2 separate regions of the Homo sapiens genome follow, and region 1 is linked to region 2. A link means that fine-mapping ties the variant in region 2 to the expression of a gene that starts in the linked region. Tissue or cell type: naive CD8 T cells. Region 2 holds a variant in brackets; the other region holds the start of a gene. All regions are shown on one strand. Distances are from middle to middle. Region 1 holds the start of DRC11L (dynein regulatory complex subunit 11 like). Region 2 overlaps PRKAG2 (protein kinase AMP-activated non-catalytic subunit gamma 2).

Region 1 (4,389 bases), 550 kb before region 2:
GAGCAGGAGCACATGAGGGAGAGCTTGCATCCAGGGTGGGCCGCTGGGAGACCAGCCATCAAAGGATGCACCAGGACACCATCCTCCCAGAGTATCTGGGAGGCCAAGTCTTGTCTTGGCGTTGGAGGGTTACCATCAGCAGAAGAACAGCCTTGAAGGAGGCCAGGGATTACCTAAAGGGCACTCTGGTAGAGAGCAGGGAGGGGCCTCTCTGCATTCTGGAGTCTTTCAGGAGATGGGGTATGGAAGAGTCTGGGAGGGTGTCACCCCCGTTTACCTTCTGGGAGGACACTGGCTCCAGTCTGGACAGGATCTCGGCCAGTATCAGCCCTCGCTCCCGCACAGTGGTGGACTGCTCCAGCAGGAAGTATTTGGGGATTGGAACCTCCAGGTCAGCCTTTGGAGCAATGTTGGGGGAGGAGGGTCAGGAATCAAAAGTCTGAGCCATCTGGCCGATCCGTTACCATTTTTAGGGGCTTACACACCCCCAGCACTGTTTTCCTCCATTTTAGAGTCCTGACTAAACTTAAAGGGTAATGGGGCAGATACCCCCAAGAGCCACTCCTCTCTTCCTCTGCCCCCATCCTCTGGCTGGAGTTGAATTCTGGAGGCTCATGGTAGGTGGCAGTGGTCTCAGACCTGGTTGTGCATCACAATCAACTGGGAAGCTCTTAAATGCAGATTCCTAGGTCCTCCTCAGACTACTACATCAGAATGACAGGACCTGGGGAATCTTCCCTGCGCCCCCACCCCCGACCAAGTGCACTGCTGCAGCTGGTTGGGGAAACTTTGAGATAGTCTTGGATATGAAGCAGTTACTGAACCCTGAGCCGGACTGGAGGCGCCGCAGAAGCTCTGTGCTCTAGAACAGCCTTCTAGAACTTGCCCGTGCACACAGATCACTGGAGGGTCTTGATAAAAATGCAGGTGCAGATTTAGTGAGTTAGGGATTCAGAGTTTCTCATTTGTGATGTCAATGCTGCTGGTCCAGGGACCACACTTTGAGGAGGCTCTAAAGGACTCTCCTCACCAATTCCCTGCGGTTCGTGGGTCTTCCCAGTCATGCAGGGGACCTCACCCTGACTCCATCCAACCTCTAAGTACCTCCATGCACACCCCCCACCGCCAAGGTTCCTGAAGCCCTTCCTACAAGGCCAAACCCCATCCTCTGATCTTCTCTGCCCTCCTTCCTTTCCTAGCAGTTGTCCCAACACCAGGGATATCCGTGGGGTGGCGGGTAGGCAGGGGTGGTCGGCCCCATCCCTACCCCACCCGACCCCAAGCTGGCCAGGGCGTGGCTCTGTGTCCCAGGTGGTCAAGGCCGGTCCCACCCCACCTCTCCCCTCCCGCTAGCTGGCTGGGGGCGTGGCTTCGCGGCTGCGCACACGTACTGGGGTGAGCTTGAAATCCTGCAGCACGCGGTCCAGGCAGTGGTTCTCACACAGGTCGGCGCGCACCAGCTCGTCCTTGAGCTCCAGCACGCGGCCCGCCACGCCGTCCAGCAGGCGTCGCAGCAGCCGCCGCTTCTGCGGCTGCACCATCTGGTCATAGACGGTGTCGAAGCGGCGCAGCAGCCCCAGGTAGTGCAGGTAGAGCGATGCGAGCCTGTACTGGAAGGACTGCCGCTCCCGGTCGGGCGCAGGTTCGAGCAGAAGCTGCTCTTGGTCCAGCAGCTCCTGCAGGGTCGCGTGGGAGGACTCCCAGAGGCGCTGGTAAGCTCTGGGGAGAGGGTGGCGGGCGCCGCGTGCTCTGAGCCACGGAGGAGTGGGGAGACGGAGCAGCCTGGCCTTTTGAGGAGTGTGGGCTCGGGGTACCAGAAGGTGTGATGTCACTCATGGCTCCTAAATGGACTTCAATGAGGTAAGGAGCCCGCAGGGCAATGAGTGGACACCGACCTGGTCTTAGGGAGAGTGTGGGATTGGGCTCCGCTGTAGGATTAGCAGAGAGAATGGGCATGACCTTTGGGGGTTTGGGGGAAAGCCAGCCCAGGCTTGGGGCTCTGGTAAGGAAGGGGTCTTTGGGAGTCAGGGGCAGTGGGGCCCTCCAGGTGTGGGGCAGCCCACGGATGCTGCAGTGATCTGGGCTGGTGGATGGGAAGTGGGGGTGAGGGATGAATGTGGAGGAGGGACCCTTCCCCAAGCAGAGCCCTGGTTCTGGAATTAACCATCGGAGGGAAGTTTCCACAGTGAAAGCTGCCAGGGCAGCAGCAGCAGCTGGGGTGGCCCAGTGCCCAAACCGCCACTCTGCCCCTGCCTCTCAGGACTAAGGAGATGCTCTGCCCTTTGCTGTCTCTGCCCTGGGAGCCCCACTCCAGCCCCTCACTCACCCCTCAGACATTGTGTCCACTCCTCCACGCTGCCCCTTGTTTGCTGGTGGTGGAATTCACAGAACCTCTGTGGCTCCCTGACTTCCAGGGCCACAGGGCAGAACAGCCTGTTTTTAAGAGTTCTGACCCATTGTACCAGTGTTCTAGGGCTGAGGCGAGGGGGCTGGTGGGTGCAGAATCGGGGACATTTATCTCGGAGGACGTCCTGGGAGCAGCGCGCTGAAGGGACTGTGGGTGGGTGGCTGCAGGCTCCCGCAGAGCAAGCTTTGGAAGCTTAGGGCAGAACATGTTGTCCAACTTTGGCCATTTTTCTTGTAAGGAACAAGTAAAATAAGTTTCTATTTGAAGTCCCCTGAAAGCTTTGGCGCTCTGGATACATCTGTCCTAAAGACATTACCCCCTAACAAGGCATCACCGCAGCTTCTCACTCTCAGCGGCCTCTGTTCCTTCTCTCAGCCCCCGCCTCCTGAGCCCCACAGCCCTCCTTCACTCTCTGGATGACAGCACGGGGAAGCCCATGTGGTGGAGGGGAAAGGCACTGATTTGGAGTCAGAAGGCCCTGAAGTCCCAGTTGCCCCCTTGGGTGAAAGTGAGCATAACCATGCTTTCCTCCCTGGGGCCTGCCAAGAGTTCACACCATTCCCATGAGCCAGACCCGTGTGAAGCATCATGCTAGAAAGTATAGTGGATGCTGTTCTGCATGCTTGGGGCTTACTTGGTCACCTGTGGGTACCACCTCCCGTCACTGCTACAAGTTCAGGAGATAATTTTTCCAAAAAGACAAAATATTATACCACTAGCAGCCTGAGGCTGGTCAGCTGGGGTGAGCTTTTTGGCTCAGTGTCACGTCGAGGCTTATGAATAAGTAAATCTAAGAGGAACAGGGCCAGGGAAACGGACAGAAGGGAGATAGCGGCAAGGAGGAGCAAAGAGGAGGAACTCGAAGGTGCCTATGAGCTACCTGAGGGTCTCATTAAAATGCAGATTCCAGGCTGGGCGCAGTGGCTCATGCCTGTAATCGCAGCACTTTGGGAGGCCAGGGCAGGCGGATCTCCTGAGGTTGGGAGTTCAAGACCAGCCTGGCCAACATGGTGAAACCCCATCTCTACTAAAAATATAAAAATTAGCCAGGCCTGGTGGCACATGCCTGTAATCCCAGCTACTCGGGAGGCTGAGGCAGGACAACCGCTTGAACCTAGGATGGGGAGAGGTTGCAGTGAGCAGAGATGGCACCACTGCACTCCAGCCTGGACAACAAAGCGAAACTCTGTCTCAAAGATAGATAGATAGATAGATAGATAGATAGATAAACAGATTCTGCTCCAGATCTGAGGGGGGACCCAAGAGCCTGCCTTTCTAACAAGCTCCCAGGTGCTTTGGCTCCTGCTGGCCCGGGTCATGCCTGGTAGGGCAAGGTGTGAACACAGGGCAGAGTGGGCAGGAGTGAGACTTTGGGGCCAGATCTCCTGGGCCTGCCTCTTGCTAACTGTGAATGTAAACGTGGATCATTAGTCCTCAGCTCACAGAACCTCAAGGTGAGGCTCGAGGTATGAGAAAATACACGTGACCTAGGTAGCTGCCGCTGAACGTCAGCTATTACTACAAGGCGATGCCTTTTCAATATGTGGAGATGAAGGAGACCACAAGCCAGGTCTGTCCAATTACAAACGGCACAAAGGATTGGAGGTTTGTCTAAATCCCACCCCTTCATCTTGTCCAAGCTTGGAAGAGGATTTATGGGTCATGTGCCCACAAGATAAGCAGAGGCTGCATGAGACAGGAAAAGCAAGTGGTTAAGTGGTGAGCAGTAAATCTAGGTAAGGACATAGGCGTGGCCGTGGTGCTTCTTGCAGTTTTTCTGTGGGTTTCAAATTTTTCCAAATAAAATTGGTGATGTTAGGAGTTTCAAAAACATCCCCACTGATTTGTTCCGAAATAAAGGGGAAACTGAAAAATCATACTGATCTCAGCAGGTTATTTAGAAGCCGATCTGGGCCTTCAGTTTTTATATCTTGAATAGATCTGTGTGGCCCCTTCACACAACAGTGCCTGTCGTACAGGAT
Region 2 (4,389 bases):
TTCACTGAAAATTAAAATGTAAAGGGGAGAAAATTGAACAAAAAAAATCTGGTAAATGGTGATAAGTATCTATAGCAGACAAAAATCAGCAAGGTACATTCTCAAAAACTCCCTTTGGCAAAAGCTAAAATAAAAATAAAAAAGGTTGCAAAACTCCGTCATCAGCAGCGGCAAGGAGGAAAGAACATCCGTGCCGTGCCACCTGGCCTTCGCCCCGCCGCGCCCGCAGCCAGAGAGATGAGCTGGGCACTTTCACCCAACCTGCCCCCAGTGACGACAGTGAGAGTATTTGCTAATCATTCGCCAAAATTTTAAAACACAGTTTTCTGGGCTTTAGGCAACATGGGGCTGGCCTGGGTGTTTTGGAGCCTCCGAGGGTGAGGAAGAGGCTGACGGTTTTCCTCATAGAGGCCCACGGGCCAGATGTCTCCAGAGAGGAGATGCTCAAAAGAAACTGTGCTCACTGCAAAGCAGAAGAGATGCGGTTAAGCAAGAGAACTGGATTAACCATCCATCCAAAGATCAAACTCAGAAAAGGAGGCTACGGAGAATTTGCCATCTTTTCTCTCTCCTCACTAGAAGCTTTAAAGGGATAGTTAGACCCTGAGTCAGCCTTTCACATTGTAGCAAGCAGACACCTGGAGGGGCAATGAGACAGTCCCCCGTCCATCAGCCTATCCTGATGCCCCATTTCTTTGAATCAGTGAACTGTAGTCCCCGGTATCCACCTCCCTCACTCTCTCTGCTTCCTCCATTTCAGTAAGCGTTCAGTGTCTACATGGGCCAGGTACAGAGAAGCAGCATATGAAGGTGACGTTGGTCATCAAAACTCTGCTGTTATGAAACATTTTTGTGCATCAGAGGACAATAATAAGAGAGTGAAAAGGCAGCTCACAGGAAAGGAGAAAATATTTGCAAGTCATATATCTGATAAGTGTCTAGTATCCAGAATACATAAAGAACTACAACTCTACAACAAAAAGACAATCCAATCAAAAAAATGAGCAGCTGCCTTGATTAAATATTTCCCCAAAGAAGACACACAGGTGGCCAAAAGGTACAAGAAAAGATGCTAAACTTTACTAGGGAACTGCAAATCAAAACAGCAATGGTAGACCACTTCACATCCTCTAGGACAACCACACTGAAAAAAAAAAAAAAAAGGAAAAGAACTGGGTCGGGCATGGTGGCTCATGCCTGTCATCTCAGCACTTTGGGAGGCCGAGGTGGGCAGATCACGTGAGGTCAGGAGTTTGAGACCAGCCTGGCCAACATGGTGAAATCCCATCTCCACTAAACATATAAAAATTAGCTGGGCATGGTGGCACATGCTCATAGCCCCAGCTACTCGGGAGGCTGAGGCAGGAGAATTGCTTGAACCTGGGAAGCAGAGGTTGTAGTGAGCCGAGATGGTGCCACTGCATTCCAGCTTGGGTGACACAGCAAGACTCCATCTCAAAAAAAAAAAAAAAAAAAAAGAACTGAACCGTTGGCAAGGATATGGAGAAACTGGAACCTTCATACATTGCTGATGGGAATGTAAAACACTGCACTGTGGAAAACATTCCTCAACAAGTTAAACACAAAATGACCATATGACCCAGAACCTGCAGTCCTAGGTATATACCCAAGAGAACTGCAAACGGGTGTTCCAACAACTTGTACATGAACGTTGATGGCAGCTCTATTCACAAAAGGTGGAAACAACCCAAATGGCCACCAGTGGATGACTGAGTAAGCAGAATGGAGTCTATTCTACAATGGAATATTATTCAGGCATAAAAAGGAATGAAATTCCAATATATGCCACAAAGTAGATCGACTTTCAAAACAATCTGCTAAGTGATAGAAGCCACATGCAGAAGCCCGCAGGTCATGGGGTTCTGTTTCTGTGAGATATGCAGAATAGGCAAGTCCAGAAAGGCAGACGGCAGCTTAGCATCTGCTAAGAGCTGTGGGAAGGGGTAATGGAGATTGAGGGCTAAGGGATGTGAGGTTTCCATTTGGGGTGATGAAACAGTTCTGGAACTAGATTGGGGTGATGGTCGCACAACACTGTGACTACTGAGTTATATACTTTAACACTGTTAAGGTGGCCAGGCACAGTGGTATGTTCCTGTCGTCCCAGCTACTAAGGAGGCTAAGGTGGGAGGATCACTTGGGCCCAGGAGGCAGAGGTTGCAGTGAGCCAAGATGGCACCACTACACTCCAGCCTGGGACAGAGCAAGACCCTGTCTCCAAAAAAAAAAAAAATTTGTTAAGGTGCTAAATTACATATTATATGCATTTTACCACAAAAAAAGTTAAACCTACAAATACTAAAGGAAAATATGGATTAATTCTACAATCTGGATTTCTAATGATGACTAAGTATGCTCATGCTATTGTCTAATGGCTATTTTCATGTCTTTTGAGGATTGCCTAGGCATGTCTTTTGCCATACTGATTCAAAGATTC[C/CTTT]TTTTTTTTTTTTTTTTTGAGACGGAGTCTCACTCTGTCGCCCAGGCTGGAGTGTAGTGGTGTGATCTCAGCTCACTGCAAGCTCTGCCTCCCAGGTTCATGCTATTCTCCTGCCTCAGCCTCCCAAGTAGCTGGGACTACAGGTGCCCGCCACCATGCCAGGCTAATTTTTATTTATTTATTTATTTACTTATTTTTAGTAGAGACGGGGTTTCACCGTGTTAGCCAGGATGGTCTCGATCTCCTGACCTCGTGATCTGCCTGCCTCAGCCTCCCAAAGTGCTGGGATTACAGGTTTAGTAAGCCACCACGCCCGGCCCAAAGATGCCATATTTTTTTTACAGCTACATGGTACTCTGCTATGTAGCTGTAACTTCTTTATTTCATTGAACTACTCTATTTATTATTTATTTATTTATTTATTTTTTTGAGACAGGTTCTCGCTTTGTCGCCCAGACTGGAGTGCAGTGCAATCACAGCGCACTGCAGCCGTGAACTCCTGGGCTCAAGTGATCATCCTGCCTCAGACTCCCAAGTACCTGGGACGACAGGCACATGTCTCCATGCCCAGCTATTTTTGTTTGTTTGTTTGTTTGTTTGTTTGTTTGGTAGAGACAGGGTCTCGCTACGGTCTTGAACTCCTGAGCTCAAGCAATCCTCCTGCCTCAGACTCCCAAAGTGCTGGGATTACATGTGTAAGCCACCTCACCTGGCCAACTACTCTCTTCTATGTGGGTGTTTAGGTTGTCTCTAATACATCTGCTGAGAAGGCCTAGAAGCAATGACACCCCAGGAGTGACATGCACACGTAAACACTATTTGCCACTAAAAGTGACAAGGGCTCTTTAGAGCAATGGCTAATTCCAGGGCTGGGGTGAGGAATGTACAAGATCAGCCAGAAAGCCAGGAAGTGCCCACAGCATGATGGGGACAGGGTGGGGATATGATGGGGAAAGTCAAAGGACACAGTGATCCGCCTGGAGAGGCTCCTGCTGGCCACGTCTAGGACAATTTGAGCATCAAAAACTTGATAATGAAGACATGGAATCAACCTAAATGCCCATCAATGACAGACCAGATAAAGAAAATGTAGTACATATGTGCTGCGGAATATTACACAGCCATAAAAAAGAAAGAGATCACGTCTTTTGAGGGAACATGGATGGAGCTGGAGGCGATCATCCTTAGCAAACTAACACAGGAACAGAAAACCAAGTGCTGCATGTTCTCACTTATGAGTGGGGGCTAAATAATAAGAACTTACGAACACAAAGAAAGAAACGACAAACACTGGGGGCTACTTAAGAGGCAGAGGGTGGGAGGAGGGAGAGGAACGGAAAAGATAACTATTGGGTACTGAGCCTAATACATGATGAAATACGTGGGTGATGAAATAATATGTACAACAGACCCCCATGACACATCTTTATCTATGTAACAAACATTCACATGGACCCCCAAACCTAAAATAAAAATTTTTTAAAATATTTGATAATGAGAAATAACATGGCACTGAATAGGATACAAATCCATGAGTCCATAGATACATACACACACAGGGAGAGAAGAAAAACCTGTTCTTTAAAGTAGCATTCCAACCAGTCAATGTAGAATTCATGATAAATTTAGAAAATCGCCTTTTGGTAATTACTATAGTAACAATTCAGGCAAGAAATACATATCAATCCTAAAACTAGCAAGTGAAAGTTTGATGAGAAAGAAGACATTTACACAATCCCAAAGTAGGTCCCCCTGAAGCCCTGACTGGTGACAAGGGGGAAAGTAAGCCCTTTATTAAAGTAGAGAACTTTATGGTGGCAGACGCCCCCTTCACCAAGTGACCGGCGTCCACTTCACCGGAAAGGTGTCGCGGCCGCATCGGGTGACCCTGCTGGGATGCAGAAGCCCAGGGCAGCCCACGGATGGGTGGG

What was found. PIP is the estimated chance that this variant, and not a neighbour inherited with it, causes the effect. A credible set is the group of variants that fine-mapping cannot tell apart.
Region 1: it holds the start of DRC11L, and the variant in region 2 is the best candidate, but not a certain one, in a credible set for the expression of DRC11L in naive CD8 T cells (Schmiedel 2018, PIP 0.75).

Annotation. Positions count from the first base shown.
Region 1 is chr7:151,203,118-151,207,506 of GRCh38, forward strand. It overlaps DRC11L (dynein regulatory complex subunit 11 like), which reads right to left and starts at 2,379. Exons shown (of 19, transcript NM_001304419.2): 1 at 2,327-2,379; 2 at 1,392-1,719; 3 at 278-397. The coding sequence starts at 2,337.
Region 2 is chr7:151,748,640-151,753,028 of GRCh38, forward strand. All of the region lies in intron 3 of PRKAG2 (protein kinase AMP-activated non-catalytic subunit gamma 2), which reads right to left. Among named protein-coding and RNA genes, the nearest start is that of PRKAG2-AS2, 56 kb to the right of the region's middle. RefSeq lists enhancers at 3,904-4,389, 4,308-4,389. The variant C/CTTT (reference allele first, on the strand shown) is at 2,459.